Homo sapiens: one gene and its partners. The protein of the gene in region 3 interacts with the protein of the main gene of each other region in a pairwise test. Each region holds a gene or a part of one and is shown on either strand. Other genes may lie near its edges.

Region 1 (3,751 bases), on a different chromosome or scaffold from region 3:
CTCGATTTTTGGGCGAGGGTGGGATGATACATTTTTTAATGGTGAATTGTTTGAGTGCTTTTAAATACAGTAGTTAAATGAACAATTCATAAAATGGATAAGGTATGATATGTTTTATGACACCTTTTAACATTCATGAAATAAATGCTTTGTATACATTGAATTTTAACAAACTAAATGAGCAGCCCGTGCCCACCTTCTGCTCTAGGATCAGCAGAGAGCATACGAAAGTCTTCAGGGGAAACCTCCTCACATTTAAGATTAGATTCTCCATTCTCTTCTGATTACTGATTATATTTTTTTTCCAATTTTGTGTCCATCTGGCCTCCAGATACCTATTTGCTTTAATCTTAGAAAAGCATTATTCTCCTTACATCCCACTTAGCAAATTATGGTAATGCTTAATTTATGTACAAAACTTTTATGTATTGTTTGGTTAATATTAAACCTAGGCTAAAAGACCACAAATTAAAATTTTAATACCCAATAAACATATGTTGAATTAAAAAGAAGTAAAAGAGCAGTAAAGTTAATGGAGTCTCATAGAGAAGAATTGTAATATCAATATTTTTACCAAGTACACACACACACACACACACACACACACACACACACACACAAAGAATGAGGAAAGAATTCATTATAGACATATGAATTCTGATGGAAGGGGCCCTGTGGGAGATTGATTCTTATTACGATATCCTGGTTGGAAGGGAATGAAGTGGGGTTATTGCTAGTGCAGTCAATGACTTGGCTTTTCTCTGGTGAATTGATTTCAGTAGGTGACTTTATTTCTTTGCATTAGGCAGCTGGAAATGTGTATTGATTTATTTCTTTTTCATTTGAGAATCAGCTTTATCAAAGATGGAGCCATAGAAATGCTGTATTTGCTGGATATGAGCAAATGCCTTAGTGCCTTTTTTTTTTTTTTTTTGCTCTGAATGTTCCTAAGATTTTTAGGAGCCAAATAAAGTTCAGCTCAATGAAATAGAAAACACACTTTGAGTGTGCATATATGCATAGTACTATTCTTTCTGCTAACTCGATTGTTAAGACCTGAAGCTCTTTTATAAAAATCTTTTTTTTTTTTTTTTTTTTTAATAAGGGATACAAAGCCCTGCAGGCCTTTTGCTCCAAGAATGTGTGTGATTGAAGAGCATGTTTTAAAAGTTAAATTCTCATTTGTGCAGTGACGGTGTTAGCGGTGGAGGGTGTTCAGGTTCTTGGCATTTTGAACAAAGAATTAGACAAAATGCACAAAGCAAGGAAGGAATGAAGCAATGAAAGTAGCGATTTATTAAAAATGAAAGTACACTCCACAGGGTGGGAGTTGGTCCTACCATAGGGGCTCAAGAGCCCGGTTACAGAATTTTCTAGGGCTTAAATACCTGCTACAGGTTTCCCATTGGCCACTTGTTGTACACCCCATGCAAATGAAGTAGTGGCCCACAATCTAGGCCGGTTGTGGTGCCTCACGCCTGTAATCCCAGCACTTTAGGAGGCTGAGGTGGGCAGATCACGAGGTCAGGAGTTCAAGACCAGTCTGGCCAACATGGTGAAACCCCGTCTCTACTAAAAATACAAAAATTAACCGAGTGTGGTGGTGCGTGCCTGTAATCCCAGCCGCTCGCGATGATGAGGCAGCAGAATTGCTTGAATCCGGGAGGCGGAGGTTGCAGTGAGCTGAGATCTATCGCACCACTGCACTCTAGCCTGGGGGACACAGCAAGACTCCATCTGGAGGCGGGGTTGGGGGCGTGGCGGAGGGGAGGGGAAGTTACACTTCTGTGCAAAGGAAGACTTGGCTGGCAGTCAGTCAGATTGGTTGGGGAAAGCAACCAATCAGAGGCTGAAATGAAGTTATAAAGTTATACTCCTATGTAAACGTCTGATTGGTTGCGGAAAGCAACCAATCAGAGGTACTTTCAGTTTTCCATTTGCCACTCAGAAAAGTGAGGGAGGGGTTTTCAAAGCGAGTAACCTCCAGTTATTTTGTTAGTTAGGTGTGTAAAGTTGGGCTTTTCTGTTTGATTTAGTTCTAGGAAGTCAGTATGAATCGGCCTTAGGTTCCCTGCCTCCAGACCCTATTGTCTTGCCTCAACAGTGCAATGGCTCTTTGCTAAGACTGTGTTCTTCTTAAGATTTTAATTTTGTTTTAAATGTTGTTTGTCCTGCTCCAAAATTAGTTTTTTAATTATGGAATTATTTTTTGTTTTGTTATTACAGGCAGTGTTAGTTCTATGGTTTTTGGCTTGATTGTTTCTTAGAAATTATGTAACCAACTCTTTCATATCATAGATGAGAAATTGAGGGATAAAGAAATCGATTTGTCATAAATTTAATTGAAATATTATTAGAAGAATAGTTTTTACTTATAGTACTTGAAATTCTCTGTTAATATTAAGACTTAGATAATTTTGAATATCATGATGTTAAAATTATAAATGACACCTCTAATATTGAGATCTTTAAGATAAAACAGACATAAGATACATGACAAATAGATGGTAAAGGTGAAGAAATATACAAAAGGTCAAAAATTCTTATAGTTTATATTCTTAACATTTGTTCTAAATTTTAAAAATTACTAAAATTACAAGACATATTTCTTAAAATAAAAAAATTACTCTAGGTTTATTATGAGACAACAATTTATAGCTGTCATTTATCTTAACAGGTTGAAGAAATATGGAGATCAACACAAAACTGCTCATCAGTGTTACCTGTATCAGCTTTTTCACCTTTCAGCTTCTTTTCTACTTTGTAAGTTACTGGTTTTCAGCAAAAGTTTCTCCAGGTTTCAATAGTCTCAGCTTCAAAAAGAAGATTGAATGGAACTCAAGGTAAAGCATATGAAAATGTAATTGATGACAAGAAACTAGTTTATGAGATAAAATTATTTAAAATATTTCAAAAAAGTATTTCATTTAGGATCTAATGTAAGGCCAAATTTTTATTTGATCTTAGAAATAAAAGGAAAAACAAGTAGATGATCTCATGCAAAAAAAAGTTTAAGAATTCATATATTGAAAGATGTTAGGAGAAATTTACTTAAGTTTCTGAGGAAGTGTGTGAAGATGAAGTAGACTCCAGCTGACTGTGGATGAATACTAGTACTTTCGTGTTCTTCTTTGAAATATTTATAACAAACATATTCTTTGGAAACAAAGATGGAAGAAAAAATTAGTTGTACTTTTGAGTAGCTTATACCATACAGCATTGGCCAACTTAGCCAGACCTGGGGCAGTTAGACTCTACACATCAGGGAACAAAGTGTACAGTCAGTGCATATGAATCTTTTAATGAACTTTGCATTATAATTTAGAGCCCTCCAGCATTTATTATTTTGTTATATAATTTTAAAGTAAAAATTTCTTTTTAGTTTTTTTTTTTTAAACAGAAAAGTAAATGGAGAAAGAATTAGACATCTATTGATATAGAAATCTGCTGGAGTTTTATTTTTTATTTTTATTTTATTTGTTTATTTATTTTTTTGAGACAGAGTCCCGTTCTGTCGCCCAGGCTGGAGTGCAGTGGTGAAATCTTGGCTCGCTGCAACCTCTGCCTCCCAGGTTCCAGTGATTCTCCTGCCTCAGCTTCCTGAGTAGCTGGGATTACAGGCATGCGCCACCATGCCAAGCTAATTTTTGTGTTTTTAGTAGAGACAGGGTTTCACTAGGTTGGCCAGGCTGGTCTTGAACTCCTGACCTCAGGTGATCCACCCACCTTGCCCTCCCAAAGTGCTGGGATT
Region 2 (3,751 bases), on a different chromosome or scaffold from region 3:
GCCCGGTCCATGGGGAGGCCGTCAACCACGGGCTTGGTGGCCCCAGGAGGAGCTGGGCCTCCTCAGTCTCCCAGCACCTTAGTAGTTTGGCCACAGGCCTAACCCAATGGCCCTGGGGCTGCAGATGCAGGTTGTGCCTTCTTCCGGTGGAAGAAGACTGGGACCATGGACACTGCCTCGCTGGCCTTTCCTCTGCAGGGCGGAGGCAGAACACAGCCAGGCGGGGTGGCTGGGCTCCTGGGAAAAGCCTTGGCTCCCAGCCCAACGCTCACCACTGGAACCACGCTGGCAGCTCCCCAGACAACATGCGTTCTCGACTTAAGTAAGAGGGAGAACTTGTGGGGAGGCCCCTGGCTGGGCTGACCGCCCACTGGGCTTGCTCAGGTGCCTGCAGGCCCTACCAGGTAGGAACAGGAGCAGGAGCTGCCTGGTGGCCCCCTGAGGCCCCTCTCCATGCCTAGATGGGCCCTCACATCCCGAGGTGCAGTTAGGGCTCGAGGTAGCAGCAGTACCGGGTGATGGCTGCTCATCTGCTGGGTGCAGGGGCCACCCTAGGCCTCGAGAGCTCCAGACAGACAGGGCGGGGGACCCCCCCAGGCCCTTCCTCCCATATGTGGAATGGGGGCTGTTTGCCAACTGTCCAGGGCACTGCAAAGCTCAGTAGTGCCCAAGAAATGGCGTGGCGTCCAGTGCTGGGTGGGGGTCCCATGGCCACACAGGGCAGGACAGGGATTCCTTCTGACTGACGGCTCAGAAAAGAGCCAGTTCTCAGGGATTCCCAAACACTGAGAACTAGGCTTCAGTTACTGGAGTAACGAATCCATTCCTGCTAGGCTGGGCCTGCGTAGACTTGCCCTCGGAGGATGCCCCCCACCAAGGCCCTTCAGGGAAGGCTGGCTGGGTTCATGCCTGGCACGGCTGCCTGCATTCCCCTGAGAGTGCAGCCCCTTCTCCCACTGCCCAGGCTGTTTCGCGCAACATCAGGTGCCCTTTGGAAGCTCCTGTGTGGCCAGGAGCACCCCCGCTGCTAAGTTTGAAGTGGCCGTGTTCCCTGCTTCCCCCAGAGGCGGCCTGGCCTCAGTGTGGACACAGGGCCGGCCTGGGACTGTCTCCGTTTTAGGGAAACCATCAGTCCCAGGAGAAGGGGGAAGGGTGGCCACTCTGGAGCTTGTTCAGGTCACTCAGGATCATCAGTGTGTGCTCTGCCCAGTCTCTGCCCACACCTGCTGCCCAGCTGGGGCAGGTTCCCCACCTGCACCTGCCTTTGGCAATCTCTCCGCTCTGCCCAGTCTCTGCCCACACCTGCTGCCCAGCTGGGGCAGGTTCCCCACCTGCACCTGCCTTTGGCAATCTCTCCGCTCTGGCATCTTCATACCCAAGCAGGAAGTGAGCCCCCTCTCCCTGGGGCTGGAACTCACCTGGTTCCCTCCTGGCTCCCCGAGGGACAGAAACAGGCTCTTCGGGATCTCCCTGTGGGGCACAGTCCAGTGAGGTCCTGGACCCTCTTGGCCGGCAGCACCCCTCCCAGGCCCTTGAGAGTTGAGCCTCGGGCAGAACTGCAGGGCACACAGGTGAACGGGCCAGGCCCGCCCAGGCCTCCTTCCCGAGGGCTCTGATCTGGAGGCGCCACCGCCCGCTGGCAGGGCCGGGTCTGTTGTGGCCTTCGTCCCGTCTCCAGCCCTCTCTGCTGGATCGCAAAGCTGGGCCAGCTGGCAGCGGCCAGGCTATAATTACCTCTCCCCTTTGGCAGAAATAGCAGTGAACCCGAGGACAGGCCGCTGGCCCCGGAGCAGAAGGGGGTGGCTGTTTCCCAGGCCCCCGGTGGACAACAGACCATGATTTCAGATAAGACCAGAGTTTGCTGCTGTTCCTACCCCTCCCGGCCCAAATGTGCCCCCTCCCAGGTCAATTCCAGAGCTGTGCAGCTCTTGGAAAAACCTATGGATTGGAATTCGGGGCAGAGTGGGAGAGGGAGGGCACTGTGGGGCTGCGGGAGGTGAGGTGATCACAGAGTCCAGCCTCCAATAAGACCCTGACCCAGCATGGGGCCTCCGTGGTGGCGAGAGTGCCCGCCCTGCCCCAGGCCCCTGTGCCCCTGTGAGTCCTGACCTGGGGTTGCCAGAGGGAGAGGCAAAGAATGGGTCCCAAGCTGCCGTTTTGGGGCACACTGGCCGACCCTCGATATTGCCCTGGCAGGAAGGGGCAATGTATGGGTCAGTGAGCGATGGCAGGGGTGAGGGATCAGCCTTTCTCAGGGTCTGTCCTGGGTGGGCGTCCAACTGCCCTGCCTGGCGCTGCTGAGTCTGCCCCTCATTTGTAGGTGAAAGTGCAGCTCAGAGAGTTGAGGCACCCTGTCCAGAGTCACACAGCCCGGAGGTGGTAGCCTGGCTCAGGCTTGGTGGCCCGTCCTCGCCAGCCCCCCCGTCTGCTGGTGCATGTAAAGGCAGGTCTGAAAGAGGCTGGTGAGGGCATCACTGGCGCAGGGCACCACCACATGTGGGCAGACCCCTGCCTGGTTTGTGGGGCTTTGACCTGTTTCAGGGGACTGCTGGAGGAGGTGTGGAGAGACCCGTGTTTCTCCATTAGGAATGGGGGTGCATCTCCCTTGGGTAAAGCTACAGGACCCCTGGGAGCCCAGGGTGTGCCAGGCTGGGGGACAGTGTGCACAGAGGGTGACTGCTCAGGGCCAGCCGTGGGGCTGCATGGACACAGAGTCCTGGAACCCACCGTCAGAGCATGAGCAACGCAGCCACTGGGATGGGGTTCAGCAGACCGGCCCTCCCCTCACTGCCGTCTTCAGTACAGGGCATGGGGGAGCAAACTTTTCTCTTACAGGGCCATATGGCACACAGTGCGCTCTGTGTCTACACAAACGGGGTGGGCCAGATTGGCAGGAGGGCCTTGGCTCGCTGACGCTTGTTCCAGGGAGAGCACTGAGGAAGGCTGGGTGGTCCTGCTGGCAGTCTGGCTTCCTGGGAAGAGTGAGGTCCTGTAGCCAGACAAGACCCTCTCCCGCCTGTGCCCAATCTGGGCGCTTATCCTTGGCTTCCCAGGGCTGGAGCTGCTCCTCCCAGATTTCAGAGGTCAGGCTGCACTGCCCGAGGTCGGGGGGCTCCGGGACAACTCCTTCCTGACCCTTCTCATTGACAGAGGGGAGGGAACGGTCAGCCCACAGACCTTGGGTGCCGCCCCCTCTCTGTGCTCCCTGGAAAGGCGATGCGGGCTGACCCTGTGGACATTCGCTCTGGGTAATTTATTAGTGAGCTGATGGCTCGGCTCAGGGCTCAGGTCCCAGCGGGGTCATATTTCCGGCCGTATCTGATAGGGCTCGGCTGCACCCTCCTCGCCTCCGTCCATTGCGCCTCACTCCAGCCTGGGCTCTGCAGGGCAAGATAAGGCTGGCCCAGGGGAGTGCTGAGCTGCCGGGTCCGCGGAGGGTCCCCAGTGCCTGTGCCAGGCAGTGCCAGGGAAGAGCCCAGTTGTGTCAGGCCTGCCTGCAGCCGGCAGGTGGGCACATGTGCCCACGGGCAGTGGTGCCAATGACGTGGTGCCCAGGTTTGGGCCCAGCTCTGTCACTGTTCAGCCAGGTGACCTCCGCCACACCCTCATCTCTCCCCGGGAGCTGGGAATGATCGGATGCCCCACCCTCCCCAGATCTTTGTGGTGCACCCACCCTGAGCAGTGCCCCGGGAACACAGCAACTAAGGCCAGCTGTCATTCAGCGGGAGGGCGGAGCATGTCCAGTGGCTGG
Region 3 (3,751 bases):
AACAACAACAACAAAAAACTTGGTAACAGATAGGCTCCTGAATTCCTTTTAGAGCAGTTACTTTAGAAATCTTACAGTTAGGCCAGGTGCAGTGGCTCACGCCTGTAATCCCAGCACTTTGGGAGGCCGAGGCAGGCGGATCACCAGAGGTCAGGGGTTCAAGACCAGCCTGACCAACATGGAGAAATGCTGTCTCTACTAAAAATACAAAATTAGCCTGGCGTGGTGGCACATGCCTGTAATCCCAGCTTACTCAGGAGGCTGAGGCAGGAGAATCGCTTGAACCCGGGAGGCGGAGGTTGTGGTGAGCCGAGATCGTGCCATTTGCACACCAGCCTGGGCAACAAGAGCGAAATTTCGTCTAAAAAAAAAAAAAGAAAGAAAAGAAAAATAAATCTTACAGTTAAATTCTTTCTCTGCCCTTTGAGAAGCAAATCTACCACACAGAACTGTTTCTTCAAGGACTTGGGAGCTGTTTCTTTGAAATGCAAACATTCAGGGAGATAAATCTTGCTCTTTCTTTCAGATGCAGCATAAGGACCAACTTAGCTGGGTGCTTCACTTCAACTATCACCATGTCCTTCTGTCATATAGATAGGCAAAGTTTCTCTGTCCTCTGGATAAGGGCCAATTAACAAATCCAGAGAGTCTAGTCACATTAACTTTCCTTAACACCACTCAGTATCTTTTCCTTAGCAAACTCCACTTTAAAATGTCATCAGCTTTACTTTTGGGGAAGTTGAGTTCAGTTAATGCTGCACTGGTTCCTGTTGCAATAGTATTACTGAATAAAACCTGTCCTCACCACATTAACTAGTATCCAGATTTGTTGATCCTTGACAACACTCAGATGTCTCCTGCACTCTACTGGCTTCAAGGTCGGATAAATGAGTTGAACACCTCTTCAGTTTCCAGCAATGTTAGGTGTTTTCTATATTTCTTTGATTTGATCATTACTATGGAAACTGGAAGAGAGGGAAAAAAAATCAAACATCTAACATAATATTTCAGTCCCAACACCTTCCATAAGCTGTTCCTTGCAATATAAGTGTATGGAATGATGAAAGAGGCAGTGTAGCGTAACAGAAAAGACCACGAGTTTTGCAGCAAGAGTCAGCTTTGATTTGATTCCTTGCTCTAAATTTTTAAAATTAGCTTCTTAAACCTGAGAAAGAGGCTAAATTTTCTGTCTCATTTTTTCATTTGAAAATAGAAATAATAATGCCTACTATATAGACTTGGAAAAGTGAGATTGAACAAGAAAATATGTACAACATGTGGTACTTAGCTCATAGTAATTGTTCAATAAATGTTATTTTGTGTTAATATCTGATAATTCCCAAAGAGATTTGTTTTCTCTGTCTGTTGTTACAACAATGCATCTCCTCATGCCATCCCTCATTTACCTATCTATATATTTCCTTTATTAAGCAATGAGTTTCTTCATAGGTATCATTTTTCCTTGTATTGTAAGCTCCTACCAATTGAAAAGGTGGGCATCCAGTACCTGTTTATGTAATTTAAAAAATACATGAATAAATACATGAACAAAGTTATGGTAAACTTGGAGCACCAAAACTGAAATAGTTTGCATCGGTTAAATTAATTAATGTCAGACTTAGTTGTGAGAGTAATGAAGGCAGCATAAGACATTAATGTATGCATTTTTCTTACATTTGGTCTGAAACAAAGACTCATCTGCTATGCTGCCTTTTAGTTTTCCTGAGTCAGCAGTCTCAGAAACAGGATCTAAAGGTACAAATGGAAAATTACCACAGCATAGTTTCATTTCCTGCTCTTGAATATCTGGTTGAACTACTTAAGCTTAATTTGTTAAACTCCGGTAAGTACCTAGCCCACATGATTTGACTCAGAGATTCTCTTTTGTCCACAGACAGTCATCTCAGGAGCAGAAAGAAAAGAGCTCCCAAATGCTATATCTATTCAGGGGCTCTCAAGAACAATGGAATATCATCCTGATTTAGAAAATTTGGATGAAGATGGATATACTCAATTACACTTCGACTCTCAAAGCAATACCAGGATAGCTGTTGTTTCAGAGAAAGGTATATATATGTTTTTTCTAATGTGTGCCTTTAGCTCTCCCGTTTGAAAAGATATAAGGGGAGGCTAGGCATGGTGGCTCACACCTGTAATCCCAGCACTTTGGGAGGCCGAGGCGGGTGGATTGACTGAGGTCAGGAGTTCGAGGCCAGCTTGGCTAACGTGGTGAAACTCTGTCTCTACTAAAAATACAAAAATTAGCCGGGCATGGTGGTGCACGCCTGTAGTTCCAGGTACTTGGGAGGCTGAGGCAGGAGAATCACTTGAACCTGGGAGGTGGAGGTTGCAGTGAGCCAAGATCATGCCAATGCACTCCAGCCTGGGTGGCAGAGCAAGACTCCATCTCTGAAAAAAAATAAAAATAAAAACAAAACAAAAAGATATAAGGGGAGAAAATTTGAGAGCCTCGTGATGTGTATATTTTTATGGATATACTTTTAAAGGCTTCAGATGTCACTGAAGATAAATTGAATGCACCCTAAACCTTTTTTCATGAAAATTATTCAGTGACCAATTATTAGTGTTTAAATTAATTATGTCTGATGGCAGAAAATAGAATTTCTCTTTTCTATAGATATAGACATTTCATCAGTGAGGAATTGGTAATAAGTGGGATAATACACAAAGATAAAGGATTTCTGTATGAGTGACTTGTTGCTTGTTTGATAGAAAGGCTAGATTATCGAATGGAGGCCAGGAAACTTAAAGAAGTATATATATGAACAACATTTTTTTTTTGTGGTAAGAGATTAATTTAAATTGTTTTTAAACAAAAAACAATTATTGGTATACCAGTGATGGAAAATATATGAACATATGGTAGATAAAAACATCCCACCAGCAGGACATGAGTCTTAAACAAAGTGTAAATGAAATGAAATAGAAAGAAGGGCATTGGAGGATCTCTGTATTCATAGAATGGGTGATTTAGCCTACTCTACGATTCTCCTATGTGACAATTCTATGAAATGTCCTGACAGCTTAGTCACAGTGGAAAGCAGAAATACATTCTGGTTATGGCAATGTTCATACAAAATTAGTTCCCTATTATCTTTGAGAGAGAGAGATCATTTGTCGGTTTTGACACCAGAGTTTGCTTTCTTCTGCTTTCTGGTTATTCACACTGCACAAATATTTTCCTCTCAGCACTGATGTAATTCTTTTCTTGGGCAACCTATTGAGGAAGCGTGGAAAAAGTGGATGAGGCAAGAGGTAGGGAGACATGCGCATGTTTATGCATATGTGTAGGCAAACGGTATCCTGCAACAACACACCTATCATGTGCTAGCAGTCTCTAAACAAGGTGCTTTTATATGTGTTAGCTCGTTTAATTCCCGCAATAATCCTTTGAGATATTATTACCCCAGTTTCACAAAGAGGAATAAAAAACAACAAAGGGAGTAATTTGCCCAGGGTCATGCAACAAACATATGAAAAGGGAAAATTACCCTTAGTAATCAGTGCTATCTCCCCAACATTAAGCTATTTCCTCTAAGAATCAGTGGGATTTCAGGGATCCTACTAATGTCAAGACCTGTAGATGTCAATGTGGAACTGAAATTAGGAGCATACAGTTATCAAGCCAATGTGCCGAAATTACAATTCCAGCAATTGAAGAAGAAGGTATCCTTACTGGTGGAGAAGCACAGCAAATCCTAGGTGACCAGGTAACCTAGGCAGTGATTAA

Evidence for each region.
Region 1: the proteins of CLEC7A (region 3) and TLCD4 interact in binary tests that used the Homo sapiens proteins (3 or more experiments, as listed by UniProt).
Region 2: the proteins of CLEC7A (region 3) and C14orf180 interact in binary tests that used the Homo sapiens proteins (3 or more experiments, as listed by UniProt).

What each region holds. Positions count from the first base shown.
Region 1 is NC_000001.11:95,141,214-95,144,964, forward strand, and holds part of TLCD4 (TLC domain-containing protein 4), read left to right. Parts: intron 1-2,677; 5' UTR 2,678-2,688; coding exon 2,689-2,843; intron 2,844-3,751. Other genes in the region: TLCD4-RWDD3 (TMEM56-RWDD3 protein), read left to right, coding at 2,689-2,843.
Region 2 is NC_000014.9:104,577,671-104,581,421, reverse strand, and holds the start of C14orf180 (nutritionally-regulated adipose and cardiac enriched protein homolog), read right to left. Parts: upstream 1,659-3,751; 5' UTR 1,419-1,658; intron 163-1,418; exon of another isoform or gene 1-162.
Region 3 is NC_000012.12:10,128,295-10,132,045, reverse strand, and holds the start of CLEC7A (C-type lectin domain family 7 member A), read left to right. Parts: upstream 1-1,846; 5' UTR 1,847-1,963; coding exon 1,964-2,066; intron 2,067-3,751.